Regions from separate parts of the Homo sapiens genome. Here region 2 is linked to region 1. A link means that fine-mapping ties the variant in region 1 to the expression of a gene that starts in the linked region. Tissue or cell type: whole blood. Region 1 holds a variant in brackets; the other region holds the start of a gene. All regions are shown on one strand. Distances are between the middles of the regions. Region 1 has its middle 220 kb from the start of ALG10B. Region 2 holds the start of CPNE8 (copine 8).

Region 1 (16,878 bases):
CTGTGGAGCCCAGCTCCCTACCTGGTCCTTGCCACGCAGCCCCTTCTACAGAGACCAGCTCTGGGGAGTTTGGGGATCCCTAAGGCCCCAGGCTGCTCCTTGTCACCCCCTGTCTGTGCTCCTTCCCTTTCCTGCTGGCAAAGCCCAACATGGCGGAGGAAGTTGCTGCCCTGTGAGCCTGAGGGAGCTGTGTCTGACTGGGATTTTGCAAAGCTCTACTTATGAATATGGTCTGTCCAGATACCCTGTTTCAAAGGAAGTGAGTATGAGGTAGCAAGTGTAGCAACCCCACAGTTGATCAATAACTTTTTCTTGTTTTTAAACCATCACATTTTCATTTCACATTGAAATAAAGTAAGTGAAACCTGCTACCCCAGCCTCGCCTGTGTGTTCTGTAACCCAGACTCATTTGGTTGTGAGGGCTGTTGTTAGAAATGTTATGAAAAGAACAATATGCATAAATTAGATCAAATGTAAAATTATGCTTATAATGTCACTTGAGTGGGAGGTAAGAGGGTGGAGTCACAGGCACTCAGTTGGAGTTTACCCACCTCTCGCTTACCAGGCTCATGAGTGTGGCACAGATGAACATCACCTGACACTGGTGACAGAAGAGAAAACGCCGGCATGAAGGCTAGGTGGGGGAGAGATGCCAGGCTGTGGGGCTAGGCCCTGGGCATGCTGAGCCTGTTATGTCACTGGACATCTAACTGCCCGGGCACCAGCCCTTGTCACATCAGTTGAGGTAAGAAGATTGGGCAGTACTCTTCAGAAGTCACACTGCTCTGGGAGAATGGAGGAGAATCTACAACTTCTCATCCTAGGGTAGGTTTTAGAGTGAGCTGGACACTCTTGGAGAGCTAATGAGATGGGAGGAAGGCAGTCCCCCAGGTGCACCTGATGGCCAGAACCTAGGAAGTGAGGCGGGGTGTGTGCGGGTGGCCAGTCCCTATGAGAGGAGGAGTTTAAAGCTTTTACAGCTGGTGGCTGCTGCTCAGTCATCCCTCTGCATAGCAGGCAGGTCCTCAGCCACACGTATAGCTGAATGTCTTTTGGAGTGTTTAGAGGGTGCTGTATGTCTTAGAAATTCCTTTCCCCTGGCCTTGTCCAGTGAACACGGTTCACATGGCCAACACCACTTCTTGAGATGTGGGCATCATGCTAAGCTGAGAATGGATTGGGTTTAGTTACCATTGTGCCTCCTCCTCACCTGAGAGGCCTATTTTCTTTGGTTGATTCCTTAAGTGTATTAGTGCTGTCAGTCACTTTTGGACAACTGAAATGACAAGTGGCTGTTGTTTCATTAAAAAATGAAGGCTTTGAATGTGAAACCCTCCTTTTCTCCTCTCCTTCTCTTAGATGAAAGATTTTGTTTTATAAAAAAGGGTACACAGTGGTATCCCAGCAGGTGTAGTGTGAGAACTGGCATGTGCTAGGCTATGGTTTCAGTGTGGATGGGCAATTCTTCAGGATGGAAAACCAAGTCTCACTGAGTTGCTGGAGCCATACTCGCCTTTCTCCACATCCCCCACCAAGGGCTTTCACTTTTCTCCCGTGCTTGAATTTTTTTAACATACATATTTTTAACATACATATTGTTCATATATATATGAACATATATATATATAACTATATATATGAAATATATATATATACACACAAACACACACTCGTACATACACATACAGGTCTCTGTCACCCAGGCTGCAGTGCAGTGGCTGAGTCATGGGTCACTGCAGCCTCAAACTCTCAGGCTTAAGTGATGTTTTCACCTCAGCCTCTCAAGTAGCTAGGACTACAGGCAAGCAATGCTATGCCCAGACAATTTTTAAATCTTTTTCTAGAGACTGAGCCTACTTATGTTGCCCAGACTGGTCTTGAACTTCTGGGATCAAGCGATCATTCCACTTTGGCCTCCCAAAGTGTTTAGATTACAGATGGGAGCTACCAAACTCAGCCAAAAATATTTTTTAAAGAACTGTTATAAGCAAATTATGAGTTATGATTGCACCACTGCCCTCCAGCCTGGGCACCAGAGCAAGACCTTGTATCCAAAAACAAAGCAAAATGAAACGAAAAGAAACTTACAACCAAATTAAACTTCAAAGATTGTGTCATCTGTGTCCAGCCCTGCCCTCCAAGCCATCACAGTTAAATATAATGGTTATTGAGAAAACAGTTAGATATTGTTAAGAAATTTTTATATATCCTCCAGCTGAAAATGAGGTATTCAAATGTGGCCCAAATATTTTCTCACCGCTACCTTCAGAATCTGAACTAGCAAATCAAATCAAGACACCTGCAGAGGACAGTTGGCTGTTTTCAAATAGAAAGAGAATTACCCCCGTTAATAAGAGTAATACAGTGATTTTCAAAAAGAAAAGTCAGACTGAGATGCAGCACAGTCAGGGCAAAACTACCCTGGAAAAACCTCTTCACACAGAATGGTTGAGGAGACTTTCTTAGATGAGCAAATTTGGGCAACATAATTCTCGCTTATTTATTCCCAAACCAACTTCCCACCTGATTCCTAATGGCCACCCCACGATATGGTCAGCAATGGGGTGCAGCATCATGAGAGAGGAGCTCAAGGATGGGATAAGGGTCTTTCCTGCATGATTAAAATGCTTAAAAAGTTGTGGAAAAGGTGTCCAAATTGTTCTACTTCCTACCTTTAAATAGGTGCTAAGATGCATTATAAAACAGACTCAGGTAAGGGAAAGAACAAGTGCATTTCAAGTCTAAGTTCGCTTCTTAATTAGCTGTGATACTCTGGGCATGTGATCCCACTATTTGAGCCCATTTGCCTGTTCACCCAAGACAAACCTAAGCAAAAATAACAAGGCTTGTGGCATCATGCTACCCGACTTCAAACTATATTAAAAGGTTATAGCAACCAAAACACATGGTACTGGTACCACAACAGAGATATAGACCAATGAAACAGAACAGACACCTCAGAAATAACACTACACATCTACAACCATCTGATCTTCAATAAACCTGACCAAAACAAGCAATGGGGAAAAAAATCCCTGTTTAACAATGGTGCTGAAAAAACTGGCTAGCTTTATGCAGAAAACAGAAACTGGAGACCTTCCTTACATCTTATACAAATATTAACTCAAGATGGATTAAAGTTTTTTTGTTTGGTGGAGCCAAGATGGCCAAATAGGAACAGCTCCAGTCTACAGCTCCCAGCATGAGTGATGCAAAAGACGGGTGATTTCTTCATTTCCAACTGAGGTACCAGGTTCATCTCACTGGGGAGTGTCAGACAGTGGGTACAGGACAGTGGGTGCAGAGCACCAAGCATGAGCCAAAGCAGGGCAAGGCATCACCTCACCCGGGAAGCACAAGGGGTCAGGGAATTCCCTTTCCTAGTCAAAGAAAGGGGTGACATATGGCACCTGGAAAATCGGGTCACTCCCACCCTAATACTGTGCTTTTCCAATGGTCTTAGCAAATGGCACACGAGGAGATTATATCCCGTGCCTAGCACGGAAGGTCCTATGCCCACGGAGCCTCTCTCCTCGCTAGCACAGCAATCTGAGATCAAACTGCAAGGTGGCAGTGAGGCTAGGGAGGGGCACCCGCCATTGCCGAGGCTTGAGTAGGTAAACAAAGCGGCCAGGAAGCTTGAACTGGGTGGAGCCCACTGCAGCTCAAGAAGGCCTGACTGCCTCTGTAGACTCTACCTCTGGGGGCAGGGCATAGCCAAACAAAAGGCAGCAGAAACCTCTGCAGACTTAAATGTACCTGTCTGACAGCTTTGAAGAGAGTAGTGGTTCTTCCAGCACACAGCTTGAGATCTGAGAATGGACACAATGCCCCCTCAAGTGGGTCCCTGACCCCCAAGTAGCCTAACAGGGAGGCAATCCACAGTAGGGGCAGACTGACACTTCACACGGCCGGGTACTCCTCTGAAACAAAACTTCCAGAGGAACAATCAGGCAGCAACATTTGCTGCTCACCAATATCCACTGTTCTGCAGCCTCTGCTGCTGACTCCCAGGCAAACAGGGTCTGCAGTGGACCTCCAGCAAACTCCAACAGACCTGCAGCTGAGGGTCCTGACTGTTAGAAGGAAAACTAACAAAAAGAAAGGACATCCACACAAAAACCCCCTCTGTACGTCACCATCGTCAAAGAACAAAGGCAGATAAAACCACAAAGATGGGGAAAAAACAGAGCAGAAAAACTGGAAACTCTAAAAATCTGAGCACCTCTCCTCCTCCAAAGGAACACAGCTCCTCACCAGCAATGGAACAAAGCTGGTTGGAGAATGACTTTGACGAGTTGAGAGAAGAAGGCTTCAGACGATCAAACTACTGTGAGCTAAAGGAGGAAGTTCGAACCCATGGCAAAGAAGTTAAAAACCTTGAAAAAAAATCAGATGAATGGCTAACTAGAATAACCAAAGCAGAGAAGTCCTTAAAGGGCCTGATGGAGCTGAAAACCATGGCACAAGAACTACATGATGAATGCACAAGCCTCAGTAGCCAATTCAATCAACTGGAAGAAAGGGTATCAGTGATGGAAGATGAAATGAATGAAATGAAGTGAGAAGAGAAGTTTAGAGGAAAAAGAATAAAAGGAAATGAACAAAGCATCCAAGAAATATGGGACTATGTGAAAAGACCAAATCTACATCTGATTGGTGTACCTGAAAATGACAGGGAGAATGGAACCAAGTTGGAAAACACTCTGCAGGATATTATCCAGAACTTCCCCAATCTACCAAGGCAGGGCAACTTTCAAATTCAGGAAATACAGAGAATGCCACAAAGATACGCCACAAGAAGAGCAACTCCAAGACACATAATTGTCAGATTCTCCAAAGTTGAAATGAAGGAAAAAATGTTAAGGGCAGCCAGAGAGAAAGGTCGGGTTACCCACAAAGGGAAGCCCATTAGATTAACAGCAGATCCCTCGGCAGAAACTCTACAAGCCAGAAGAGAGTGAGGACCAATAGTCAACATTCTTAAAGAAAATAATTTTCAACCTAGAATTTCATATCCAGCCAAACTAAGCTTCATAAGTGAAGGAGAAATAAAATACTTTACAGACAAGCAAATGCTGAGAGCTTTTGTCACCACCGGGCCTGCCCTAAAAGAGCTCCTGAAGGAAGCAATAAACATGGAAAGAAACAACTGGTACCAGCCACTGCAAAAACATGCCAAATTGTAAAGACGATCAAGGCTAGGAAGAAACTGCACCAACTAAAGGGCAAAATAACCAGCTAACATCATAATGACAGGATAAAATTCACACATAACAATATTAACCTTGAATGTAAAAGGGCTAAATGCTCCAATTAAAAGACACAGACTAGCAAATTTGATAAAGAGTCAAGACCCATCAGTGTGCTGTATTCAGGAAACCCAGCTCACATGCAGAGACACACATAGGCTCAAAATAAAGGGATGGAGGAAGGTCTACCAAGCAAATGGAAAACAGAAAAAGGCAGGGGTTGCAATCCTAGTCTCTGATAAAACAGACTTTAAACCAACAAAGCTCAAAAGAGACACAGAAGGCCATTACATAATGATAAATGGATCAATTCAACAAGAAGAGCTAACTATCCTAAATATATATGCACCCAACACAGGAGCACCCAGATTCATAAAGCAAGTCCTGAGTGACCTACAAAGAGACTTAGACTCCCACACATTAATAATGGGAGACTTTAACACCCCACTGTCAACATTAGAAAGATCAATGAGACAGAAAGTCAACAAGGATACCCAGGAATTGAACTCAGCTCTGCACCAAGTGGACCTAATAGACATCTACAGAACTCTCCACCCCAAATCAACAGAATATACATTTTTTTCAGCACCACACCACACCTAATCCAAAATTGACCACATACTTGGAAGTAAAGCTCTCCTCAGCAAATGTAAAAGAACAGAAATTATAACAAACTAACTCTCAGACCACAGTGCAATCAAACTAGAACTCAGGATTAAGAATCGCACTCAAAACCTCTCAACTACATGGAAACTGAACAACCTGCTCCTGAATTACTACTGGGTGCATAACAAAATCAAGGCAGAAATAAAGATGTTCTCTGAAACCAATGAGAACAAAGACACAACATACTAGAATCTCTGGGATGCATTCAAAGCAGTGTGTAGAGGGAAATTTATAGCACTAAATGCCCACAAGAGAAAGCAGGAAAGATCTAAAATTGACACCCTAACATCACAATTAAAAGAACTAGAGAAGCAAGAGCAAACACATTCAAAAGCTAGCAGAAGGCAAGAAATAATGAAGATCAGAGCAGAACTGAAGGAAATAGAGGCACAAAATACCCTTCAAAAAATCAATGAATCCAGCAGCTGATTTTTTGAAAAGATCAACAAAATTGATAGGCCGCTAGCAAGATTAATAAAGAAGAAAAGAGAGAAGAATCAAATAGACGCAATAAAAAATGGTAAAGGGGATATCACCACTGATCCCACAGAAATACAAACTACCATCAGAGAATACTATAAACACCTCTACACAAATAAAGTAAAAAATCCAGTAGAAATGGATAAAGTCCTTGACACATACACCCTCCCAAGACTAAACCAGGAAGAAGTTGAATCTCTGAATAGACCAATAATGGCTCTGAAATTGAAGCAATAATTAATAGCTTACCAACCAAAGAAAGTCCAGGACCAGATTGATTCACAGCTGAATTCTACCAGAGGTACAAGGGGGAGCTGATACCATTCCCTCTGAAACTATTCCAATCAGTAGAAAAAGAGGGAATCCTCCCTAACTATTTTATGAGGTCAGCATCATCCTGATACCAAAGCCTGGCAGAGACACAACAGAAAAAGACAATTTTAGACCAATATCCTTGATGAACATTGATGCAAAATCCTCAATAAAATACAGGCAAACTGAATCCAGCAGCATATCAAAAAGCTTATCAACCATGATCAAGTGGGCTTCATCCCTGGGATGCAAGGCTGGTTCAACATAGGCAAATCAGTAAACGTAATCCAGCATATAAACAGAACCAACGAGAAAAACCACATGATTATCTCAATAGATGCAGAAAAGTCCTTTGACAAATTTCAACAGCACTTCATGCTAAAAACTCTCAATAAATTAGGTATTGATGGGATGTATTTCAAAATAATAAGAGCTATCTATGACAAACCCACAGCCAATATCATACTGAATGGGCAAAAACTGGAAGCATTCCCTTTGAAAACTGGCACAAGACAGGGATGCCCTCTCTCACCACTCTTATTCAACATAGTGTTGGAAGTTCTGGCCGGGGCAATCAGGCAGGAGAAGGAAATAAAGGGTATTCAATAAGGAAAAGAGGAAATCAAATTGTCCCTGTTTGCAGATGACATGATTATACATCTAGAAAACCCCATCGTCACAGCCCAAAATCTCCTTAAGCTGATAGGCAACTTCAGCAAAGTCTCAGGATACACAATCAATGTGCAAAAATCACAAGCATTCTTAAACACCAATAACAGACAAATAGAGAGCCAAATCATGCATGAACTCCCATTCACAATTGCCTCAAAGAGAATAAAATACCTAGGAATCCAACTTACAAGGGATGTGAAGGACCTCTTCAAGGAGAACCACAAACCACTGCTCAAGGAAATAAAAGAGGATACAAACAAATGGAAGTACATTCCATGCTTGTGGGTAGGAAAAATCAATATCGTGAAAATGGCCATACTGCCCAAGGTAATTTATAGATTTAATGCCATCCCCATCAAGCTACCAATGACTTTCTTCACAGAATTGGAAAAAACTACTTTAAAGTTCATATGGAACCAAAAAAGAACCAACATTGCCAAGTCAATCCTAAACCAAAAGAACAAAGCTGGAGGCATCATGCTACCTGACTTCAAACTATACTACAAGGCTACAGTCACCAAAACAGCATGGTACTGGTACCAAAACAGAGATATAGACCAATGGAACACAACAGAGCCCTCAGAAATAATGCTGCATATCTACAACTATCTGATCTTTGACAAACCTGACAAAAACAAGCAATGGGGAAAGGATTCCCTATTTAATAAATGGTGCTGGGAAAACTGGCTAGCCATATGTAGAAAGCTGAAACTGGATCACTTCCTTACACTTTATACAAAAATTAATTCAAGATGGATTAAAGACTTAAATGTTAGACCTGAAACCATAAAAACCCTAGAAGAAAACCTAGGCAATATCATTCAGGACATAGGCATGGGCAAGGACTTCATGTCTAAAACAC[C/T]AAAAGCAATGGCAACAAAAGCCAAACTTGACAAATGGGATCTAATTAAACTAAAGAGCTTCTGCACAGCAAAAGAAACTACCATCAGAGTGAACAGGCAACCTACAGAATGGGAGAAAATTTTTGCAATCTACTCATCTGACAAAGGGCTAATATCCAGAATCTACAATCAACTCCAACAAATTTACAAGAAAAAAACAAACAACCCCATCAAAAATTGGGCAAAGGATATGAACAGACACTTCTCAAAAGAAGACATTTATGCAGCCAAAAGACACATGAAAAAATGCTCATCATCACTGGCCATCAGAGAAATGCAAATCAAAACCACAATGAGATATCATCTCACATCAATTAGAATGGCGATCATTAAAAAGTCAGGAAACAGGTGCTGGAGAGGATGTGGAGAAATAGGAACACTTTTACACTGTTGGTGGGACTGTAAACTGGTTCAACCATTGTGGAAGTCAGTGTGGCGATTCCTCAGGGATCTAGAACTGGAGATACCATTTGACCCAGCCATCCCATTACTGGGTATATACCCAAAGGATTATAAATCATGCTGCTATAAAGACACATGCAAACGTATGTTTATTGCAGCACTATTCACAATAGCAAAGACTTGGAACCAACCCAAATGTCCATCAATGATAGACTGGATTAAGAAAATGTGGCACATATACACCATGGAATACTATGCAGCCATAAAAAATGATGAGTTCATGTCCTTTGTAGGAACATGGATGAAGCTGGAAGCCATCATTCTCAGCAAACTATCGCAAAGATGAAAAACCAAACACTGCATGTTCTCATTCATAGGTGGGAATTGAACAATGAGAACACATGGACACAGGAAGGGGATCATCACACACCAGGGCCTGTTGTGGGGTCAGGGGAGGGGGGAAGGATAGCATTAGGAGATATACCTAATGTTAAATGACGAATTAATGGGTGCAGCACACCAACATGGCACATGTATACATATGTAACTAACCTGCACATTGTGCACATGTACCCTAAAACTTAAAGAATTAAAAAAAAAAAAGACAAAAAACAAAAAAAAAAGTTTTTTTGTTTTGTGATTTTTTTTTTTTTTTTAAGATGGAATCTCACTCTGTTGCCCAGGCTGGAGTACAGTGGAGTGATCTCTGCTCACTGCAACCTCCGTTTTCAAATAGAAAGAGAAATACCTTTCTAGCAATTCTCCTGACTCAGCCTCCTAAGTAGCTGAGATTACAGGCACCCACCACTACGCCCAGCTAATTTTTTTGTATTTTTAGTAGTGATGGGGTTTCACCATGTTGGCCAGGCTGATCTCGAACTCCTGGCCTTGTGATTTGCTTGCCTCAGCCTCCCAAAGTGCCTGGATTACAGGCATGAGCCACTGTCCCTGGCTGTATTAAGGTCTTACATGTAAAACCCCAAAACATAAAAACCCTAGAAGAAAACCTAGGCAATACCATTCAGGACAGAAGCATGGGCAAAGACTTCATGACTAAAACACCGAAAGCAGTTGCAAAGAAAGCAAAATTGACAAATGAGATCTAGTTAAACTAAAGAGCTTCTGCACAGCAAAAGAAGCTATCATCTGAGTGAACAGACAACCTACTGAATGGGAGAAAATTTTTGCAATCTATCCATCTGACGAAGGTCTTATATCCAAACATAAACAAATTCACAAGAAAAAAAAAAAACAAACAAACACCATCAGAAAGTGGACAAGGGATATGAACAGACTTTTCTGAAAAGAAGACATTTGGCTGGGCGAGGTGGCTCAGGCCTGTAATCCCAGCATTTTGGGAGGTCGAGGCAGGAGGATCATGAGACCAGCCTGGCCAACATAGTGAAACCTCTTCTCTACTAGAAATACAAAAAACTAGCTGGGCCTTTTGGTGTGCCCCTGTAATCCCAGCTTCTTGGGAGGCTGAGGCAGGAGAAACACTTGAAACTGGGAAGTGGATATTGCAGTGAGCCGAGATCCTGCCACTACACTGCACCCTGGCTAACAGAGCAAGACTTAGTCTCAAAAATTAAAATAAATAAATAAATAAATAAGACATTTATGCGACCAAAAAACATAAACCTCATTATCACTGGTCGTTAGAGAAATGCAAATCAAAACCACAATGAGATACCATCTCATGCCAGTTAGAATGGCAATTATTAAAAAGTCAGGAACCAACAGATGCTGGTGAAGCTGTGGAGAAATAGATATGCTTTTACACTGTTGGTGGGAGGGTAAATTAGTTCAACCATTGTGGAAGACAGTGTGACAATTTCTCAAGGATCTAGAACCAGAAATATCATTTGACCCAGCAATCCCATTACTGGGTATATACTCAAAGCATTATAAATCATTCTACTATAAAGACACATGCACACGTATGTTTATTGCAGCCCTGTTTACAATAGCAAAGAATTGGAACCAACCCTAATGCCCATCAGTGATAGACTGGAGAAAGAAAATGAGGCACATATACACCATAGAATATTATGCAGCCATAAAAAAGGATGAGTTCATGTCTTTTGCAGGGACTTGAATGAAGCTGGAAACCATCATCCTCAGCAAACTAACACAGGAACAGGAAAACAAACACCACATGTTCTCATTCATAAAAGGAAGTTGAACAATGAGAACACATAGACACAAGGAGGGAAACATCACACACTGGGGCCTGTCAGAGAATGGGGGTCAAGGAGAGAGAGAGCGTTAGGAGAAATAACTAATGCATGTGAGGCTTAAAACCTAGATGGCGGGTTGATAGGCGCAGCAGCCGGGCAGGGCGGCTCACGCCTGTAATCCCAGCACTTTAGGATGTGGAGGCGGGCGGATCACCTGAAGTCGGGAGTTCAAGATAGGTGCCGCAAACCCCCATGGCACATGTAAACCTATGGAACAAACCTGCACGTTCTGCACATGTATCCCAGAACTTAAAGTTTTTTTTTAAAAAAGGGCACTAAGGCTGAGGGGGAGTGGCGGTGGGGGGGGAGTGGGTGGGCCCTGGAGCTTTATGCAATCGGTGGCGGTGGCGTGGGAACAGCCCAATCAGGCACGCAGTTGGAGAGGAAGGAAGGGCGTGGCTTCCAGTGTTTGGCGGGAACTTTTTCTCTCCCTGGCGCCAGAACTTGGGATCCATCTCTACTCTTCCACCTTCTCCATGTTGGGAGCTCCATGGGGCCTTCCTCACAATCTCTTTTGCCCTGTAATCTGAAGGTACTTGGGGACGCATAGCTAAGATACCAGAACATCCTGGAAGCTGGGAAATGGTGAGTAAGGGGGTTCGGCACCCCGAGAGAAGAGAGCAGGCTGTGAAACCAGCAGGACCGGCCTCCCCACAGTCATCTCCAAGTCTCTGGCGCAGCTTGGCCCTCAGTCCCCTGTGCCTGCAAGATGGTGGCTGGGCCAGCAGCAGGGACCCCCGTGTCCGGCCTCATGCCCTCCGGTCCCGTCCCTGCGTGGCGTCCTGCTGTGCGCCCACAGTGCGAGTATTCCCCAGATTGTTCGGGGATGCCAGGTGGGTCATCAGGGCAGAACCCCCACTCGGTGTGTGCGTCGGAGGAGCTGCAGCCCGGGGCGTCCCCAGTCTCTCTTGTTAAAAATAAAAGGGGATTCCATGTTAAAACGTTAACCACTTTATTTGAGCAAACAGTGATTGGTGAAATGGAAAGCACCCAGCCATGATTTGTGGTCCACCCGAGGGGCATGAAGGAAAGGCTTTTACAAGGTGCATAAGAAAGCAACCCAATTTCAAGAAATGGTTAGAGTTGGCAGGGCACGGTGGCTCACACCTGTAATCCCAGCACTTTGGGAGGCCGAGGTGGCCAGACCACCTGAGATCGGGAGTTCAGACCAGCCTGACCAACATGGTGAAACCCTGTCTCTACTAAAAATACAAAATTAGCCGGGCGTGGTGGCGCATGCCTGTAATCCCAGCTACTCGGGAGGCTGAGGCAGGAGAATCAGTTGAACCTGGAGGGTGGAGATTGCGGTGAGCCGAGATCACGCCATTGGACTCCAGCCTGGGCAACAAGAGTGAAACTCTGTCTCAAAAAAAAAATAAAAAATGGGCTAAAATACATGAACTAAATGATTTCCAATAGCTCCTGCAGCTTTGCCAAGTCCATGTTAAAAAAATTACATGAATGGGAACTGACGCGGTGGCTCACTCCTGTAATCCCAGCACTTTGGGAAGCTGAGGCGGGCGGATCAAGAGGTCAGAAGATCGAGACCATCCTGGCTAACACGATGAAACCAAAATACAAAAAATACCAAAAATACAAAAAATTAGCCATGCATGGTGGCAGGCGCTTGCAGCCCCAGCTACTCCGGAGGTTGAGGCAGGAGAATAGAGTCAACACAGGAAGTGGAGATTGCAGTGAGCCAAGATTGGGCCACTGCACTCCAGCCTGGGCAACAGAGTGAGACTCCATCTCAAAAAAAAAAAAAAAAACTACATGTATGGATTTTTTTCCTGACTCTTAATTTTATTCCATTAATGTGTATGTATTGACCCCCTGTTCTACAACTTTGCAGAATTTGATTATTAATGTTAACAGCTTCATTATTACTGAGGATTTTAATTATATATATAAAATTATAACATCTATATGTAGAAATAAGCTTATTTCTTTTCCAATTGGAGTGTTTCTTTTCTTGTATTGCTCAATTATTCTGACCTGATTTGTATTACAATTTTGATCAGAAGTGATAAACACAACTATCTTTGTCTTGTTCCTGATCTTAAGGAGAAAGTTTTTAGTCTTTCACCATTGCATGTAGCGGTAGTTTTGAGTTTCTTATATGTACCTTTTTTATGTTCAGGAAGTTTTAGTCTATATCTAGTTTACTAGGTGCTCTTATAAAAGTGTTTTGGATTATTTCAAATTTTTTCTCTATCACTTGAGGTGATCACGTTTTTTTCTAAAATTCATTCTATTGAGTTGGTATATTGCATTGACTAATTGCAATTGTTAGAGTGAGAAAAATTGGAGTTACAACTTTTAATGTTTAAAACAATTCATCAGTGAAGCCATCTGATTCTGGACTTTTCTTGTTAGTATATTTTTGATAACGTATGCAGTCTTTTGCTAGTTACAGGTTGTATTAGACTTATTCAGAGAAATAGAAGCAATAGAATAAATATCTACATCTATGTCTCTGTGTGTGTGTATTCATATATATGTGTGTGTGTGTGTGTGTGTGTGTGTGTGTGAGAGTGTGTGTGTTAATATATGGGACAGAGCCCTTTAGAGTTGTCATGGCTCTGTCTGCTCAGGGGGACTTTCTCAGCCATTTCTGGGCTGGTTTGGAGAACCCTCTGTTCTTCCACTCACCTCATTTCAATGCTGGCCCTTGTTGGCAACAGCAAGCTTCTGCCCCACACCAAAGGAAACAGAGTGTTACCCCATTAATACGTTTTTGCCAATCTCCTGTGTGGAGCTCTGCAAAGATAGTAACTGGCAGCCAGATATGGAAGCCTCAGAGCTATTTCTGGCCATCACTGCTGCTCCTTATACACCATGCAACTTTCTGCTCGCCAGGTGAGGCATAGAATTATGTCTATACAGACCTTCAGCCTTGGAAGTCACTAGATAACAGCTCAAGGGCTCAGAACAATCAGTTGAGGTAGATGGGTACCCACAGCAGCACTTGCCTTCCGACTTTGCCAGCCATGATCTGGTGTGTAAACATAATGAGCCACTAGTATTCTAACATCCCAACAATCTGCTCCTGCTCAGAATGAGCCAGCCTCATATAGCATTCCCCTATACACAAAATTTGACATTACATATTTATCCTTTTGTATTTGGCTTATTTTACATAGTATAATGTCTTCAAGGTGCATCCATGTTGTAGCATGTATCAGCATTGCATTTTTTTTTTGAGATGGAGTCTCTCTTTTGTCACCCAGACTGGAGTGCACAGAAATGCAATCATGACTCACTGCTGCCTCAGCCTCCCCAGGCTCAAGTGATCCTTCTGACTCAGATGGACCTCCCCTGTGGCTGGGACTGTAGGCACACACCATCAAGGCCAGCAAATTTTTGTACTATTTGTAGAGATGGTATTTTGCTATGTTGCTCAGGCTGGTCTCAAATTGTCAGGCTCAAGAGATCCTCTCATCTTTGCTTCCCAACATTCTGAGATTATAAGCATGAGCCACCATACCCGGCAGCATTGCATTGATTTTAAGGCTAAATAATATTCTGTTGTGTGGTGTCTATACCACATTTTCTTTATCTCTTTATCTCTTAGAAGATATCTGGATTTGTTTTTACATTTTGTACTGTAAATGATGTTGCTATAAAAATTGGTGTGAAAGTATCAGTGCATAAGTGAATAAAATTTAAAAAGCTGAACACATCTCTGCATGCAGTTCTTAGATTGAATAACAGAGGCCAGGCATGGTGGCTCACACCTGTAATCCCAAAACTTTGGGAGGCTGAGGCGGGCAAATCACTTAAGCTCAGGAGTTCAAGACCAGCCCGGGCAACATGGTGAAACCCCCTTTCTACTAAAAATATAAAAATTAGCTGGGCATGGTGATACATCCTTGTAGTCCCAGCTATTCGGGAGACTGAGGGACGAGAATCGCTTAAGACCCAGAGGCCCAGGTTGCAGCTTAAGTCCTTGCGTTTAATTATTTTGGATACACCTTTAGTTGAGACATATGGAAGTGTTCCACCTGCTGCTGAAACATATGGTAATTATATATAGAACTTTCTGATAAACTGCCAAACTATTGGTCACAGTCTATAAACCATTTTATATTCTCACCAGCCATGCACCAGGGTTCCACTTCCCCTACATACTAGCCAGTACTTTTTCATTTTTGTTGTTTTGGTTTTTATATAGCCACCTTAATAGATGTAATGTGGTATCTTATTATGGTTTTGATGTGCATGTCATGACTGGTGATGCTGAGCATTTTTCTGTAGACTTATTGACTCAATATAGATTCAAGTCCTCTTCCTTTTTATAAATGCTGTTGTTGTTTTGTTTTGTTATTGAGTCTTAGAAGTTCTTTATATATTCTTCTTATTATATTATACCTTATGTACCTAGTCAGATACATGATTTTCAAATCTTTTCTCCCATTTGCTGGTTGTCTTTTCACTCTGTTGTTCATGCTTTTTGTACAAATTTTAGTAGAAGTGGGAGTTCTTTTTTTTGGTAGCAAAAAACACGAACAACAGAGTGTTTTTCTTATCAAAAAAATCAGAAAAGTTTCACATTTTAATCAAGTCCAATTTATATGTTTTTTATTTTGTGTCCTATGCTTTTGGTGTAACAGTCAAGAAACAATCACCAAATTTAATGTTATAAGATTTTTGCATATGCTTTTTCCTAAGAGTTTTTAAAGTTTAACTTTCTAGAACTTTTACAGCAGGTTTGGGGGTACATGTGAAGATTCGTTACATAGTAAACATATATCACAGGGGTTCACTGTACAGATGATTTTATCATCCAGGTATTAGGCCCAGTACCCAATAGCTATCTTTTCTCCTTCTTTCCCTCCTCCCACCCTCTAACTTCAAATGGACCCCAGTGTCTGCTGTCTTCCTCTTTGAGTTCCTAAGTTCTTATTTAGTTCCCACTTACAACTGAGAACATGTGATATTTGGTTTTCTGTTCCTGTGTTAGTTTGCTAAGGATAATAGCCTCCAGCTACATTCCATGTTGCCACAAGAGACATAATCTCTTTATTTTATGGCTGCTAGTGTTCCATAATGTATATGTGACAGATTTTCTTAATCTAACCTGTTACTGATAGTATTTAGGTTGATACTCCATACTGATAGTATTTAAGTTGATAGTATTTTGGTTGATAGTATTAGGTTGATTCCATGTCTTCGCTATTGTGAATAGGGCTGCAATGAACATTTTCATGTATGTGTCTTTATGGTAGAATAATTTCTATGTCTCTGGGAATATACGCAGTAATGGGATTGCAAGCAGAACTATTGAATGGTAGTTCTGCTGTTAGCTCTTTGAGGAATTGCCAAACTGCTTTCCATAATGGTTGAACTAATTTACACTCCTACCAACAGTGTATAAGTTCCCTTTTCTCTACAACCTCACCAGCATTTATTGTTTGACTCTTTAACTATAGCCATTCTGACTAGTGTGAGATGGCATCTCATTGTGGTTTCTTTCTTTTTTTTTCTTTTTTGAGATGGAATCTCACTCTGTCACCAGGCTGGAGTGCAGTGGCACGATCTCAGCTCACTGCAACCTCCGTTTCCTAGGTTCAAGTGATTCTCTTGCCTCAGCCTCCTAAGCAGCTGGGACTACAGGTGCATGCCACCACACCCAGCTAATTTTTGTATTTTTAGTAGAGACAGGACTTCACCATGTTGGCCAAGATGATCTCGATCTCTTGACCTCGTGTTCTGCCTGCCTCAGCCTTCCAAAGTGCTGGGATTACAGTCGTGAGCCACCACACCTGGCCATCTCATTATGGTTTAAATTTTCATTTCTCTAACAATCAGTGATGCTGAGGTTTTTTGCATATACTTGTTGGCCATATGTATGTCTTCTTTTGAAAAGTGTCTGTTCATGTCCTTTGCCCACTTTTTAATGAGGTTGTTTCTTTTGTTGTAAATTTAAGTTCCTTATAGATGCTGGATACT
Region 2 (16,878 bases), 810 kb after region 1:
GTGGGCCTATGGGGTGGAATCTGTAGAAACTGAGTGTGCATTTACAAATCCACACTATTCTAACGACTGTTTTATTCCACACTCTCTCCACATTGAATTAATCAGCATGGGATAACATGCAGCTTTATCACTGTCACCTTGGTTCTATGTTTCTGTGGCTCCCCAAATTGACTATAAATTTTTCCAAAGTACAGATACCTTCTTCTATGTTGCTGTGTGCCACACAGTAAAATGCTGAAGAACCTGGGATAAGACTAATAGCCAGTTAGTGCTTTTCTTGTGACAGGCTGGGCATTGTACAGACTTTATTTCATTTACTCATCCAACAACCTTGAAATTTTGGTTTTTAAATAATTTCTATGTTACAGATTAGGAAATGAGGTTCCAAAAGTTGAAACAGGTTACCCAAAATAACATTCCAAAAAGGGATAAAAATGAGATTTAAAGACATCTGTCTGATTTCTAATTCCATTTTCTTGCTGCTATACTCTGCTGCCTCAAATTCTCATTAATCTCTAAATGCAACATTCTTATGGTAATAAAAGTATTTAGAAAAGTGCAGCCAGTAGCTTAGCCTTGATTCTGCGTATTTAAATAGGAATGGGATGGAAGTAACCAAAACAAGCTACCAAAATCCCTTTGAGAAGATAGCTTATTAATCATTTCAGTTCTAGAAAACTATCCCCAGGAAAAAAAAGTAACCAGAGATGTTAGATGTTTGTGATGGAGAATACTCATTTTTAACACTGTTTTGAATAGCAACTTTTTGAAATAAATTTTGGAAAACAAGGGTTAAGTTAAATAAACATAGTACAACCATATAATAGAATACTGCACAGACATGGAAGGTTATATTTCCAAAAACTAATAACAACAACATATTCATGATATAATATTAAGGGAAAAGTACAGGAAAAATATTGTATAGAATATATAATTATATTCTATATTAATACACACTATTAATATATTACATATTGTATTATGTATTATATATTATATGTGTGTATATATTAATATACACAGAGAGAATATAAATGTGATGCTATACATGAGACAAAAATGAACTCATTTGCTCATAGTTTGACGCAACAGCGAAGGATTTTAATTTTTTTATTATCTCTTTGTAATCATTGAGTGCTTAACTAATGTCACAAGCAGTGTTTTATCTCACTTACATGTATTAACTTATTTAATCCTCAAAGCAAATATAAGAACTGGGGGCTATTATTATCCCCACTTTACAGATGAGGAAACTGAGGAACAGATGTTTCAAAGATACTAAGTGGCAGAGCTAATCTAGCCCTACACCCACGTTCTTCAGCGCTAAGCAAAACTGGCTCTCAAACAGGCTAAGAACTGGATGAAATCTCTTTGAGAGGAATTGTATTTCTTCTCAGTCTTGAGTAAACTCAAATAGGGGATATAGGCTTCTGCCTGCTACAACACAAATAACAGACCTAAAGGAGCACAGCTATTACCACCCTCTCCTGTGGGATCCTGTCCTTTAAACTGCTTCTAGATTAGCATTCTCCACATACCAGGGCTGTTTTAAAACCCCTCAGGCCCCAAATGCTAAAAAACACAGGCAGACCAAAATACTGGTGGAACAACAATGTTAAGTAAGGTATTTCTCTGAAAAAAAAATATACCAGGGCAACTCTCACATTAAGACTTCAACGCCACAGTTCAGAAAGTTCCCAGGACAAATTTTACTGAAACTCTGGGGCTAAGACAAACCTAAATATGATCAAAAAAGGCACTACAGGGTGACTACAATCTTGAACCACAGGATCTCAAGAGCTGCAGAGACAGAATAGGATGTTACGGTCTACAACAACTTTACCCTCTGTTTACCTGTCATATGGCTCATTAACAGCACAACAGGCAGTCTAATATCCCTAGCTTATATAACTTAATTTATCAACTAACAACATCACTTGAAAATCTATTTACATAGTATCTCCAAATTTTTTGTCTGACTAAAGAAAGGTAAAGTATGCTAAGAGATGAACCAATGTGGACTAAGGTAGAGCCTCCAACTGTTGTGTTTGAATGCTTTGATTCCTTTCACCGCAGATCATTAGAACAGCACAGGTATCTACCTCAGACAGCCAACTCCAAAAAGGGTCAGACACTCTCTCTTGGAATCTAACTTTGCTTTCGCAGATGGTCAGTTAATCACTAAGTGTAGCTGGACTTGTAACATGTAAACTTGCAAAGGATATGCCACCAGTGGATGGAGAAAGAGGGAAAGAAAAATACAACTTCAAAGTAAGAGAAGAATAAAAGTGTAGAGAGAACCACATGAAAAGGAGAGGGAGAAATTTAAAAGTCTCTAAGTTCCTAACTGCAATATACCTGCTATCACAACTTTTATGGATTATAAAATCATACAACCCCACTTATTCCAGTAGAGAAGGAAGACCAGAGATAGTGCTGAACTTGACACTACCACTTCTAATAGTGACAGTCTAACAAGAGTGTTATGAACTGAATGTTTGCGTCCCCCCAAAATTCATGTGTTGAAATCCTAACCCCTAATGTGATGATATTAGGAGGTAGGGCCTTTGGGAGATGATTAGGTCATGATGATGGTGCCTGCCCTTATGAATGGGAATACTGTCCTGATAAAAGGAACCCCAGAGAGCTCTCTCACTCTCTGTAGGCCATGTGAAAGTACAGTGAGAAGCTGGCAGCCTGTAACCTGAAAAAAAAGCTCACATCAGAACCTGACTATGTTGGCACCCTGATCGCAGACATCCATCCTCTACAACTGTGAGAAATAAATGTATGATGTTAATAAGCCACCTTGTCTCTGGTACTTTATTATAATAGCCAGAACTGAACCAGACAAACAACAATAATTTTCTTTTATATAAGGCTTTACCTTTTCCAAAAGTCCATAAACAGTGATGTGCAAGTATATATTTTAAAACAACCTCTTCAATAAAAAGCTGAACGTTTGTGTGTACAAAATTTGTTATTTTTTACTGATGTGTAGAGTATGTAGCTTGGCACACAATCTACAAATAATAAGTTGCACATAGTACTTTTATTATAAACTCCATAGAGTCAACTGATTCCCACAGAATGATTTCTTAAATACAGATGACAAAAGGGTAAGTCAAACACTGATTTGCAGTGTTTGCCAATTCCCATGGTGTAAATATTCCCACTATGGCTTATTTCAAGCTGCCAAGGTGGCACACATGAATTGGGAAGAGAACAGAAGCACAGCACTGCAGAATACTTTCAACACACAGATTTAAAAAATAGAGAATAGATGATTATAAAAAAAAACAGATGACAGTAACATGTAGTAAAGCAATTAGGAAGTTATAACCTTTCAGCATTTCTTAAATTTATTTTTAATATAATTTAATTTTGTTTATATAATTCAATTTTTAATAGTCACTTTAACAACTGACTTACAAATTTCTGTTCCCAAACCCATTTAAGCTCCAGCACACCATCAAAAAGTATCTTCCTAACACCCTAGTAGGGTGGGTTTTACTAACTCAGATCAAGGGACTAGAGTTAGAGTCACTTACTCATGAAACCAAGAGATGAAAATAATTAGTGTGTATAACCAGCACAGCTTGAACTTGTTAAAAGCTCAGATTCCTGGGTCCCATCCCCAGAGATTTTGATTCAATAGATCTGCTATGGGACCTAGGAATGATATTTTAACAGGAGAAATCCCTCTTCCCACATTAGACAATTTGGCTATAGAACTGCAGCATCAAACATTTACTAACTACATATTCTGTGCCAAGCTCAGAATATAGTACATGGACATGAAAGAGACAAAACTTGTCCTCAAGGAGAATAGAAAGACTAAGAGTGGTAATATACCTATGACACTGGCACACCTCAGCTACTTTGGGACTAATCCAGTTTAGGAGCACAGCCTAATCCAGAAAAGAAGGGGAAGGGAGGTAGGGCAGGGCAAAGAGCAGCACCTGTGTAGCCACAAAAGCATGAGGAGTTTGGTTGTCTAGGATGAACGCTCACACTTTGGGACTGTACCTTTTATAAGTATTTTTTAGCCGTATTTCTCGGGCATGCATTTTGGGCTATGGCACACATCTGTTTATCAGACTATATACAGTTGCTGGGTTCATGCAAGGAGTGATGGGAGATGAGGCAATAGACTTACACCAGGTCAGGAAGGGCTTTTTAGAATGCCTAGCACCACGTAGGCACTCAACCCTTTTCCACTTCATAGTCTTCCTTCCACTTTAATGTTTAAAGTCAGTATTGGCCAGGGGGGCAGTGGCTCAGGCCTATAATCCCAGCACTTTGGGAAGCCAAAGTAGGCAGATCACTTGAGGTCAAGAGTTCCAGACCAGCTGGCCAACATGGTGAAATCCCATCTCTACTAAAAATACAAAAATTAGCTGGGCGTGGTGGTAGGCACCTGTAATCTCAGCTACTCGAGAGGCTGAGGAAGGATAATTGCTTGAACCTGGGAGGTGGAGGTTGCAGTGAGCAGAGATCGCACCACTGCACTCCAGCCTGGGCCACAGAGTGAGATTCCATCTCAAATAAATAAATAGTCAGTATTATCACCATTATAGGATTATTTCTGTGACAGGATGTACATTTGATACCTAACATGCAAAGTCTAGAAATACACAATATTCTCACTGCTTTTATTATTGATAAGCTGACTTCTCAATCAGAGAAAATGATGAAAATCAGTGAAATAGTGCAACAAAATCAAGGACCCAAGGAAAACAGGTGATTACTGCATATTATTTTTCCCAGTGGGTTTACCTCATTCTATAGTAATAAGCTTTCAGAATAAAATGGAAATATTACCTTAGTTTATCTCTCAAGGTTGTATCATTTCAGCTACAGGCATTTTTAGTTAATTAAGTAAGCTAATTAATTTAAAAATCTACAAATTTATACAATAAAAGAAAATGAATGCAAGAAGAGCTAGACAATGGGTAGAAGACGAAGGAGGTCAAATAGCAGGAGCTTGCCTTTGCATAAATACATCTAGAAAAGGGTACCTCTCACCCCCTTAACACAAATTTAAGTGGCTATAAATTTAACCACTGTCCCTTCTCTAATCCAAACCATGCCTATCCAGCTTGTCTCTGCCCAAGCCCCATCTCTCCCCTTTGTAATATACTCCAAGCACCCTATTCCACAATGATCCTTTCCCTCCTCATGCATGAGCCTCATCTTTGAATTTAGCCCCGTTACCGTGTCTTATGTAGTGTTTATCTCTCAATCAGATTTTACATTTTCAGAGAACTTCTTTTGCATTTCTCATGGACCCTAGCATAAACATAGACATATAAAAGGCACTCAGACACTTGATGAATAAACAGACTAAATTATTTCCATGAATTATATTCAAGCTTCAATCGTTTATCTTTTTCACCTTCCCCAAAATGAAGATAAAAACTTTGTCATAAAGCTTTTAATGATAGGGGACAGTGAAAGGAGGTGAAAGAAAGGAAATGAAGAAAAGAAAAGGAAAGGAAAGAGAAAAAAGAAAAGAGAAAGAGAAAAGAAAGAAAGAAAGAGAAAGAGAAAGAAGGAAAGAAAGAAAGAAAGAAAGAAAAAAGAAAGAAAGAAAAAGAAAAGAAAGAAGGAAGGAAGGAAAGGAAGGAAGGAAGGAAGGAAAGAAAGAAAGAAAGAAAGAAAGAAAGAAAGAAAGAAAGAAAGAAAGAAAGAAAGAAAGAAAGAAAAGAAAGAAAGAGAAAGAAAGAAAGAAAGAAAGAAAAAGAAAGAAAGAAAGAAAGGAGAGAGAGAAAGAAAGATAAAGAATGAGAAAGAAAGAACCTATTCAAATCTGAGCTGCTTTTGAAGTGTGGGCAAATCCTCAGAAGTCTCTGGTATAGTAAGGCAAGGGAATTCCTTACTCTGCCTGCCCATAGCAAGGCTCAGAGGCCTTCAACTGTGCTTTGTTGCTAAGTGAAATCCCCACAACCTTTCTACAAAACATGTTCTTGATGCACATCAAAGAAGATAGAGAAAGCGGGAACAGGTATCCCAATGCTGGTTCTATCCTTGTGTTCTTTAACCAACTTATTGAAGTTCAAAAGAGAAGGACTTTTACAGAATTCCATACCTGAATCATATATAACACATTTATTCAACAAATGTTATTTCCAGTATTATAATAATAGCTAACATTTTTGAAAACATGTTTTTGTTTCATGCATTGTGTAAGCGCTTTCACACATCACCTTGATAACACTCTATATAAGGTAAATACCATAACTATTCTTATTTTTGGAGATGAGAATGCTTAGACAGACTGAATAAGAACTTACTCCAAGGTAGCAAGAACAAGTCACAAAGCCAGAATTTGTACTTAGGTCTCTGATGCCAAAGCCCAAACTAAACCACCTCCTATGGTTACAAGATCCAACAATACTCAAATATTTTTATCTTTGAATTTTAATGTATTAAAAATAAATTTAACCCACCTTTTCAGGAACTATTCCCAAACCTATTCCAAAGGCACTAACTTGGGTATTTAATTATGTTTCTCTTTGCCCAAAAGATGCTTTTTACCTCAAACTTATCGTAAATAGTAAGCTGAGTCAGAAGCAACTCAAACAATAGACTAAGCACTAGTGCCCCTGGCAGAGATGCTTGACACTAAGTATTCAGGTTCTCTTTCAGGATTTTTTTTTCCTGTTAGAAATCTTAAAAATTAAAAACAAAATGTCAAAGCAATGTTATGAAAAAAAGCTGGAACAAGGGATTTGCAGGTTCTGAGGCAGCAAACTGAAACAAATTGCCTTAAGCCAATTGACTTCAGTATGCCCAGCACACTCACAGAAAACATGCATCAAAAAAGGGGCTGCATTAAACATGGGCCCTACTGGCAGAATGACCAGTTTAGGTATAATTTCCCTTAAAAAGCTCATGGAAAAATTCAGACTTGATTGACAATATTCTTTTATATTCATTCCAAGTATAGGCCACATGCCATTCAGACTTTGCAGACTGTTGAGCAGAGGATAAGAACTCTAGTAATGCTGTTATTGTAGGACTTCCGGCTATCCATTATCTGTATATACCAGTAACTTCCCTCTAACATCGAAAGCAAGCTTCAGAGAAAAGAAAAAGGCCTAGGAATCCTCTAAAGAGTTTTCCAAACAGCTTCACCTGTTCCATTGACAGAAAAATCTCAGGCAGCACTTAAAGCAGTGACAGCAATGAGGCAAGAGCTTAATGATAGCTATCATTATCAGCATGATTATTTCCATAGTCCCAGATCAGTCTTAAGAGGCGGCAAACAATCAGGTGATATAGTTTCAGGGCTAGATAAAGGCTGTCCCCTACCCTCAAATAATACTTCTACTACGGTTGCTGGTGCTCGAATTTTCACCCCCAGAAAAGAATTCCTTTGGCTTTAGGCTCAGTTTGTGAAAATGCAAAGTCAAGATTGATGGAATTTTAAACTTATTTACATCAAGATCACCCAAATTTGTTAGATATCTTCAAGGCAAGTTTGCTAAGGAAAGGAAAGGGAGGATGTGAGGGCATAAAAACAATCTTAGGGCAAAAATGGATAAATGAGGAGCCAGTTTTCCAGTGAGACAGACCCAATTATGCAAACAAGGGAGTGGGCTCCAGGGTCAATATTAATTCGCAAATTAGTGGCCAGTACCAATTTAGCACCATCGCTCATCTCCTTCTCAAAATCATCTATGATATAGCGGTGATGCTGCTTTATTTACAGGGCAACTAACCGAAAGGTCAGGACAACGAGTTTGCAATTTACAGTCTCTGGACAGGGTTGAAAGTCAGTTTTTTTTTGTTTTTTTTTTTTTTTTGAGATGGAGTCTTGCGCTGTCGCCCAGGCTGGAGTGCAATGGCAAGATCTCAGCTCATTGCAACATCCACATCCCGGGTTCAAGCGATTCTCCTGTCTCAGTCTCCCGAGTAGCTGGGACTACAGGCGCGTGCCACCACGTCCGGCTAATTTTTGCATTTTTAGTAGAGACGGAGTTTCACCATATTGGCCAGGCTGGTCTCGAACTCCTGACCTCGTGATCCACCCGCCTTGGCCTCCCAAAGTGCTGGGAATACAGGCGTATAAACTGTACTGAGCCACTGCGCCCGGCCGAGAGTCAGTTTTTACAAGCACTCAGATGTGGGCCCGAAAACAAATCAAAACAAAAGTCGTGACTTCCCAGATCTTAGGTAAGGCATAGATTCGTCTGCAAGGAGGGCCGAAATCTCTACCTATCAGGCAAAAGGCAAAAAGCCCGGAAGGGTCGGGGAGAAGCAAGCTGGAAGGCTCCAGGAAGTGGGTGGGGAGGAAGCTGCCGGGGTTGGAGCCAACCCTAGCAACAGCAGGTTTGCACACGCCTAGCAGAGGAAGTCCCGGGCCTAAGCGTGCAGCGGTCACAAGAGCTTTTGGCAGTGCTGTCCCCTTCGATTCCGGTCATCACCCAACCATCCAGCCCGGGTTTGGGGCGGAAAACCGGCTTGTAAAGTGGGCGGCGGCCGGTGTTCCCACAGCTGAGTCACAGCCCAGCCAACTTTTACAGCGTTTCCCAGAAAGAAAATACAAAGTCTCAGTCCCGGAGCCCACCGCTTCTAATTCCCGCTCCCCTGTGTCACCTGACCCGGGGTAACTCCAGCCCCACTACTGAGATATTTCCCACTCATGGCGCAACTTCTTGCCTGCGCAAAGCCTCGTGGTACCCCGAGCGCTCTCCAAGTGCTACCAACCCCACAGATGAGAGGGCAGGAGAGAGGGGAAGGGCTGCGTCCTCACCTGCAGGACACGGACACCTCCACCCGCGTGGCCGGGATGGCAGCGCTCAGCTGGTTCAAGTCCCCGATGCCCGCAGTGCTGTTGTAGCGGCTGTCCATATTGGGAGGAGGCGCCTTGGACTTGTCCGGCGCCCACAACCACAGCTCGGGCGGACTGAGGGCTAGCTCCCGTCAGGCGGGGATGGGGGTTGAGGGTGGAGGCAGAAGAAGGAGGCGGAGGCAGCGCGCGGGATGGGGGAGGGAAGGGAGGAGGCGGACCTCCGCGCAGAGCCACGAGGGAACCGCTAGCCAGTCCTGGGTGAAACTGACGCTGCCAGGCAAGTGGCGCGCGGGGATCCCGGTTTCCCAGCCCCCTTCCGGCAGGCAGCAGCCCGGGCGGGGGACACACTCCGTGATCCCCTCCTGGCTGGAGGGGTCAGGCTTGGTGGACCCAGCAAGCAGCCTGATGGAGAAGGTGGCACCAGACGCAGACCCCTACCGTCCAGGACCGCAAGCCCTCGCCGGCTCTGCGTGCTTTTAGGTTTTGTCTCCACCTCTGCACACCCACACTCGCCTCCTGGGCCGCGACAGCTTCCTTCTGTCAATCAGGTGTGGACGGGAAGGTCTCGAAGTTTCCTCGCCTGAGTTGAAAGCTGGAGGTGGGGGCACCTCTGCCCGTTCCTAACTGCCCCGTTATAAGGTCCCCCTCCCCACAATTGGTTCTCACCTCGCCCTCGGAGCTCTTGGGAGATCCCTCCGTCCCTCCTACTGTGCCCTCGGGCAGATGAGTCTGGTCCCAGCTTCTGGACTGCCCACTGTCGGCCACTTGAGAGTTGGGGACGGTGGGGCATTGTGACGCTCTCCAACCTTGGAACACGGTGGCAAAGTGGCCGATCAATATATGGGACAAGTGGGGGCGGGGGGGCGGACTCTAAGGTGGAAAAAACAATACTACTTGGGATTTAAGGAAGCAATCTGGATTCTGTCTCCCCTTGGTTCTTCGGAGCTTAGAGGTCTAACGGCGACATTCCTCCTACAGTAAGGGCTCTTCTGGGTCCCTCGTTTCCAAAGGCATGAAAGTTCTGACCTGAAAATGGGGGCCGGGGAGGGTGATGTCACAACCATATAACGCAGCTCCTTCAGCCGACTCCCACCCGCAAGAACTGAGACCTGACGGATAAAAGCAGAGAGGAGTCAGAGTGAGCGCTGCGTTTGGGAAACTGCATTCCAGGGCAGCAAGACTGGTGCCAAGACGGAGTCGTGGCAAAAGCATCCGGAGGTAGACGAGGCGCCCCTCCACTGCAGGGACCTTTGTTCCCCGCGCCTTCCCTCCTGCCTCACCCGAGCGCCTGCGGGTCCCGGGAGCTCGCCACCAGGCGGCGACGGAGAACAGGATGCGGCGCAGCTGGAAGGCAGAGGGTGGAGAGGGGGCGGGTGTCCGTCCGATTTAACGCTCCAAGCACGGAGTTTCCAGCTGGTTGGGCTAAGTCTGGGAGGAGCAGTTTTTGCGGTGGAGGACTTGCCTTGCGTTGTAACATTTTAATCCACTTGCAGCCTCCTGCCTAGAGAATCTATAGAGGCGGGTGAGAGTGTGTAGGTGCAGTCTTGCCGATTCCCCTGCCGAGTGTACTTCCCCTGTTTCTTCTTGCTTTCCTTTCCTGATTTCCCCACCCACCGCTTTTTCTTCTTTTTTTTTCCTTCCTCTTGTCCTATTACAAATTAAACTGTAGTTTACTGCGATTTGGAAATGCCCTAAAACCCCAGGCATTTCTATTATGCTGCTCAAAGTTAATTTGGCATAGAGATCTAGGTTTTTTTTTAAGCTCACCAGAATTTTACTTTACAGAAGCCTACTGAAGAGATGAAACTTGAGAACTTTAGTAGTCAACATGTGGGATACTTACATCCAATTTGTTTCCACTTCAGTGAGGTATAACATATATAATGAACTGCACTTAAAGTGCATCCATCATTCGATAAATGTTGACTCATGTATCTCCCTGTGAAGCCATCACCAAAATCAAAATAATGAATCATTCCATCACCCAAAAGTTTTCTTACGTCGTAATCAGTACCTCCTTTCATCACTGAAACAACCCTCTAAGCAACCACTGATCTTTATGTCACTATAGAAGAGTTTGCATTTTTAAAAATTATGTATGTGGAATCATAAAGCAGGTAGTATTTTTGGTCTGGCTTCTTCCACTAAGCAAAGTTCTTTTGAGATTCATCTATGTTAGCATCAATAGTTCATTCTACTTTTTAAATATTTATTCATATATACAAAGAAATAAATTTTTAATTTATTTTAAATTAATAAATTTCATTTATTTAATGAAATAAATTTTTAATTTATTTCATTGTATATATGCGCTATAAATTGTCCATTCACCTGATGATGGACACTTTGGTTGTTCGAACTTTGGGCAATTACAAATGAAACTGATATGAACATATATGTACAACTCTTTCTGTGGACGTATGTTTTCATTACTTCTGGGTAAGTACCTAGGAGTGGAACAGCTGGATCATATGGAATGTGTATGTTTAACTTTTTAAGAAACTATTAAGGCCAGGTGCGGTGGCTCATGCCTGTAATCCCAGCGCTTTGGGAGGGTGAGGTGGGCGGATCATGAGGTCAAGAGATCGAGACCATCCTGGCTAACGTGGTGAAACCCTGTCTCTACCAAAAATACAAAAATTAGCCGGGCATGGTGGTGTGCGCCTATAGTCCCAGCTACTCCGGAGGCTGAGGCAGGAGAATCTCTTGAACCCCTGAGGCAGAGGTTTCAGTGAGTGGAGATTGATCGCGCCACTGCACTCCAGCCTAGGGACAGAGCGAGACTCTGTCTCAAAAAGAAAAAGAAACTATTAAACTTTTTTTTCAAAAGAGTTTTACTACTTTTCTTTACCACAACAGTATATAAGAGATCTGGTTGCACACATCCTTGCCAACATTTATGATGGTCTTTTAAATTTTAGCTTATCTAACAGATGTGTAGTAATATCTCATGTGGCTTCATGACAAATGATGTTGAACGTATTTTCCTATGTCTTTTTGCTATGTGTATACGTATCTTCTTTGGTGAAGTGTCTTCATATATTTTACTTATTTTTTTATTATGTTGTTGGTTTTCTTATTTCTGAGTTTTGAGAATTCTTTATTCTGTATCCAAGACCTTTATCGCATGTGGTTTACAAAATATTTTCTGACAGTCTGTGGCTTGTGTTTTCATTCTCCTGTCTATCAAAGAGAAGAAGTTTCTAATTTTGATGAATCTAGTTCTTCAACGTTATCTATTATAAATCATAATATTGATGTCAAAACTAAGAAATATTTGTCTAATGTGAGATCACAAAAATTATCATCTTCTATACTTTCCCCTAAAATTTTAGTTTTAGGTTTTACGTTTATCTCTATAATTTATTTTGGTTTTTCTAATCAAAGTTCTCATTTTTACACATTGTCATCAGATTTTGCTAGCACCATTTGTTGAAAATACTACCCTTTTTCATTGAAAAATCTTTGCATCCTTTGCCAAAAATTAACATATATCTATGAGTCCATTTTTTAGACTCTATCCTATTCCATTTACCTATTTGTCTTTCTTTAAGCCAATGCCACAGAGTCTTGATTACTATAGCTTTAAAATAACTCTTAAAGTCAGGTAGTATAAATTTTCCAACTTTGATCCTCTTCAAAATTGTTTTTTCATTTTTAATCCTTCTCATTTTCATATAAATTTTAGAATCAGCTAGACAAGGTCCACAAAAAGTCTTGTTGAGATTTTCATTGGGGTTGCATTGATTCTATGGACAAATCAGAGAATAATTGACATCTGATCCAAATTTATCTTCTGATCTATGAACATTATATATCTTTCCATTTATTTAGGTCTTCCTTAATATATGTCAGCAGTGGAGTGGTGTGCTTAAGGAGAGAGAGACTTGGAAAAATACAGACCGAGAACAAGGCCATGTGGAGATAGAGGCAGAGACTGAAGTTGTACCACCAAAGGCAAAGAATATCAAGTATTATCAGTAACCACAGGAAGCTGGAAGAGGCCAGGAAAGGTTTTTCTTAGAGACCTTGGAAGGAGCCTGACCCTGGAACACCTTGATTTTAGACTTCTGACCCTCAAAATTGTGAAAGAATAAATTTCTGTTGTTTTAAGCAATTCGGCTTGCAGTAATTTGTTACAGCAGCCCTAAGAAAAGTAATACATATCGATAACATTTATTATTTCCATTTTGCTGACTCTTTCAAGTTCTGTGCTTATAAATTCATCATAGTGAAGTAAGCTTTAAATGATAAAACTTTGAAAGTATACTCAAATTCTGTTGCTATAGTTAGCACAATACAGAAAGGAATATAATTTTTAAAAATAAATTTTAATAATATAAATATAAATTATGACATGTCTAAACTTTTATTTTGGAGATTTTATAATAAAAAGTTTATATTTATTAAAATTCATTTAAATTAATAACATAAAGCCCTTGGAATATGCTAAAAATCAAAGATAAGTTACATTTACTATAACGTAATAAACCATCATTCACTGAATCAGTGATTTAGCAGACATTAATTCAATGTCTGCTATGCACTAGGCACTGTACTAGATCTAAGAGCTAAAGCTCCTTCTGGCACTTATAGACCAAGTAAAAGTTAGCAAGGAGATACATTATTGGGTAAAGATTATACTGACTGAGTCATCGAGCTCTGTTTTTTAAATAGTTTCAACTTTTAGATCTCTGACGTACATGTGCAGGTTTGTTAAATAGATAGATTGTATAATGTTGAGGTTTGGGATGCAAATTATCCTGTCACCCAGATAGTGAGCACAGTTCCCCAAAGTTTGCCTCCATCCTTCCCATCCCCCTCTATCAGTCCCCAGTGTCTGTTGTTGCCATCTTTATGTCCATGAGCACCCAAAGTTTAGTTCTCACATATAAGTAAGAATGTGCAGTATTTGGTTTTCTGTTCCTGAATTAATTTTCTTAGAATAATGGCCTCCAGCTGCATCTGTGTTACAAAGAACATGATTTTGTTCGTTTTTATGGCTGTCTAGTATTTTGATGGTGCATATGTACTACATTTTCCTTATCCAATCCACTGTTGATGGGCACCTACATTAATGCCATATCTTGGTTATTGTGAATCACGGAGTTCTTTTCATTTCTGAGATTTTATTATTTCACAAGATTAGAGAAGACTTCAATTTGTAAATTCAATGATTATTAACCATTATTTTCAGAAGGACTTATTTACAAAATAGCTTGGTTAAGGAGAGGCTAATGAGAAAAACACATGAAGAGAAAGACCAAACAAACAAGAAAACAAAAACAAACAAAAAAAAAAACACTGTTGAGTCTCCAATGAGAGCAACAAAACAGAAAGAAGGGAACATACTTTTTGAAGAATGTCCCTGAAACAGTGTATGCTTATAATATAAGGATAAAATATATTTACCTTGCCTGGCAAGTGATGTATCAGCTCACACATAATCCAAAACAAATTGGACTGAGCATTTCTTCAGGGTATAGCTTCATCATGGAACATTTGCGCTATTGGCTCCAACAACTATCCTAGCCAAAGATAAGTCAGAAATACCAGCATTGCCCTATGCTCACCTTTAAAATACCCTCAGGAATTGAAGAAAATACATAGTTCTCTAACCTCTGTGGATAGCTTTATAATTACTTTAGCTAGTTGACCTGCTCTATGAAGACACAGCTTAAAATAAAATAAACTTATATCACAGCAAAAATGGGCTAGTTGTTTAATTTTAGGGAGTGACAGATGAGGGAAGACATTGTGATGAGTGGCCAAAACATGTTTTCTGAGTACCTGCCTTCTCTCTGGATCAAATAACCACCTGGTTTTAAACCGTACAAAGTGGATCAAGTATGTAAACAATTCAATCATTTCAAACATTCAAATTGTTAATATCACTAATGCTGTTTGCTTAAAGTTACCTTCGTGACCAAGTAAGATCAGTGTCTCACCAACCTCATAAATTACCACCTTGCTAATAGCTAAGACAGTCGGAAGACTATCACTTTTAAAATCAACTTTAAAATACTACAAATAATAACAGAGTTAAGATCTGTCATGAATAAGTGTCTAGGGACAGTAAATCCAATATTTTAATCAAGTAACACTTTTCTAAGGGACCATGTATGATTATTTAGGTAAACCTAGTCTCAAGTAAATGTTTCCAAAGTAAATTTTACACTTAAGAGAGCACATAGAATGCAAAATCTTTTCAATTTCAGAATTTCACACTTCATATTTAAGCATATAATTTATTTCACATGATGTTTTGAAGGTCTTGGGTTGGTTTGGATATTTGTTTTCCATTATCACAGAGTCAACTGGCTCCACCCACTGGCTATTCAGTAAAGGGAGGCCATAAACTTGCAAGAGTTAAGAGAGAGTGTAGATCAGGAAGGTGACCAAACGGAGGTTAGTTATTTTACTATAACTGAATCTTCTATTATTTTTAATGATAATACTTCAGCTATCTATTGTTGCATAACTAGCCCTCCAGCATTTAGTCATGCAAAACAACATGATTTTACTCTTTTTCATGATTCTTTGGGTCAGAAATTAGGGCACGGCTTGGCCAGGCAGTTCTGCTCCATGTAGCATCAGTTTGGGTCATACATATGGCTGCATTCAGCTAGAGGCTGGCCAGACTGGAAAATCCAACAAGGCTTCATTCCCATGTCTGGCAGCTCAGTGCCTTTCCCCCAAGTAGCTGCTCTGTGGTTTCTCCTCCTTCTCGAGTCTCTCCTGAGCTTCTCCACAACACAGTGGCTGGCTTTCCCAGAGCCAAAGTGGAAGCTGCCAGGTCTCCGAAAGCCTCGGCCCAGAATTGGCACAGTGTCACTGATTTCTAATTGTCAAAGCAAGTCTCAAGGCCACTGTAAGGAGTTGGAGGGAGCGGGGTGGCTGACTTGACTTACAGGGTAGAGCAGCATGCACGTATTATGAGGGAAGGAATTGATGGCAGGCATCCTTGGGGACTACCTACTTAAAATAGTCAATAGAGGCTAAAATAGCATGTATCCCCCACTTTAAAAAAAAAAAAGACATTCATATTTTTTTTTCACTAGTTTAGACTTTTTCTAATTGAAAAGAACAAATACACTTAAGGAACCAGAAATCTCGTAGCATACATTGTAATGAGTAGGCTCAGAGTAGTGAGCAAGTATTTGTCTTTAAGAATTGCTGTTATGCCAACTATAGGCTGAACAGTGGGGGTGGAGGAAGAAATATAGAAGACATGAAGGATATCTTCCCTCCTTCCAAGCATCTTAGAGTTTAGTGTGAGACCCAGCTTCAATTCATTGCACCAATAAAGAATATGAAAGAGCAAGAGGTAAGCAATGATTTGTCATGAGATAATGTGATATAGACTAATGTAATTGATGCTCAAGGGAAGGCATATTAATGAGAAAGACAAGCTATTAAAACTTTCCTGGAAAAATGGGACTTGACACTTTCCAACAGGTAAAAAAAGACAACTGACCAATATAGAAAAGGGTTACAATATAAGTAAATATAGAAGTAAAATTAAGTACTACATATGTTTGCACAGTAGAAAGACAACCAAACTCACCAAAGAAGTGTGCAAATTTGGATAGACAGCACAAAGTTATCTTAAAAGATCTTGTAATTAAAGTGAGGATATGTAAAACTTTCAGCAATCTAAAATTATACAATTCTGAACTGTAGTAGAGTAGCCATGAGTCACAAGTGGCTATTTAAATTAATTGCTATTTAATAAAATTTAAAATGCAGTTCTTCAGTTGCACAATTAGGTGGGTGCAAAAATAATTGCAGTTTTTGCAATTAAAAGTAATGGCAAAAACTGCAATTACTTGTGCACCAACCTAATACATTTCAAGTGCTCAATATCCACACTTGGCTATGGGCTACCCTATTGATAGACAATTTCCTTTACTCTCTGAAGTTCTTTTTTTTTTTTTTTTTTTTTGGGAGATGGAGTCTCACTCTGTCACCCAGGCTGGAGTGCAGTGGCATGATCTCACCTCACTGCAACCTCCACCTCCCAGGCTCAAGCAATTCTCCTGCCTCAGCCTCCTGAGTACCTAGGATTACAGGTG

Evidence for each region. PIP is the estimated chance that this variant, and not a neighbour inherited with it, causes the effect.
Region 2: CPNE8 starts here. The variant in region 1 is fine-mapped to the expression of CPNE8 in whole blood (TOPMed, PIP above 0.99).

Annotation. Positions count from the first base shown.
Region 1 is chr12:38,088,185-38,105,062 of GRCh38, forward strand. No RefSeq gene overlaps it. Among named protein-coding and RNA genes, the nearest start is that of ALG10B, 220 kb to the right of the region's middle. RefSeq lists an enhancer at 11,083-11,377. The variant C/T (reference allele first, on the strand shown) is at 8,245.
Region 2 is chr12:38,896,673-38,913,550 of GRCh38, forward strand. It overlaps CPNE8 (copine 8), which reads right to left and starts at 8,919. Exons shown (of 20, transcript NM_153634.3): 1 at 8,765-8,919. The coding sequence starts at 8,862. CPNE8-AS1 (CPNE8 antisense RNA 1) reads left to right here and starts at 9,040. Exons shown (of 2, transcript XR_007063275.1): 1 at 9,040-10,325; 2 at 12,638-12,920. RefSeq lists a silencer at 8,904-9,073 and an enhancer at 10,204-10,463.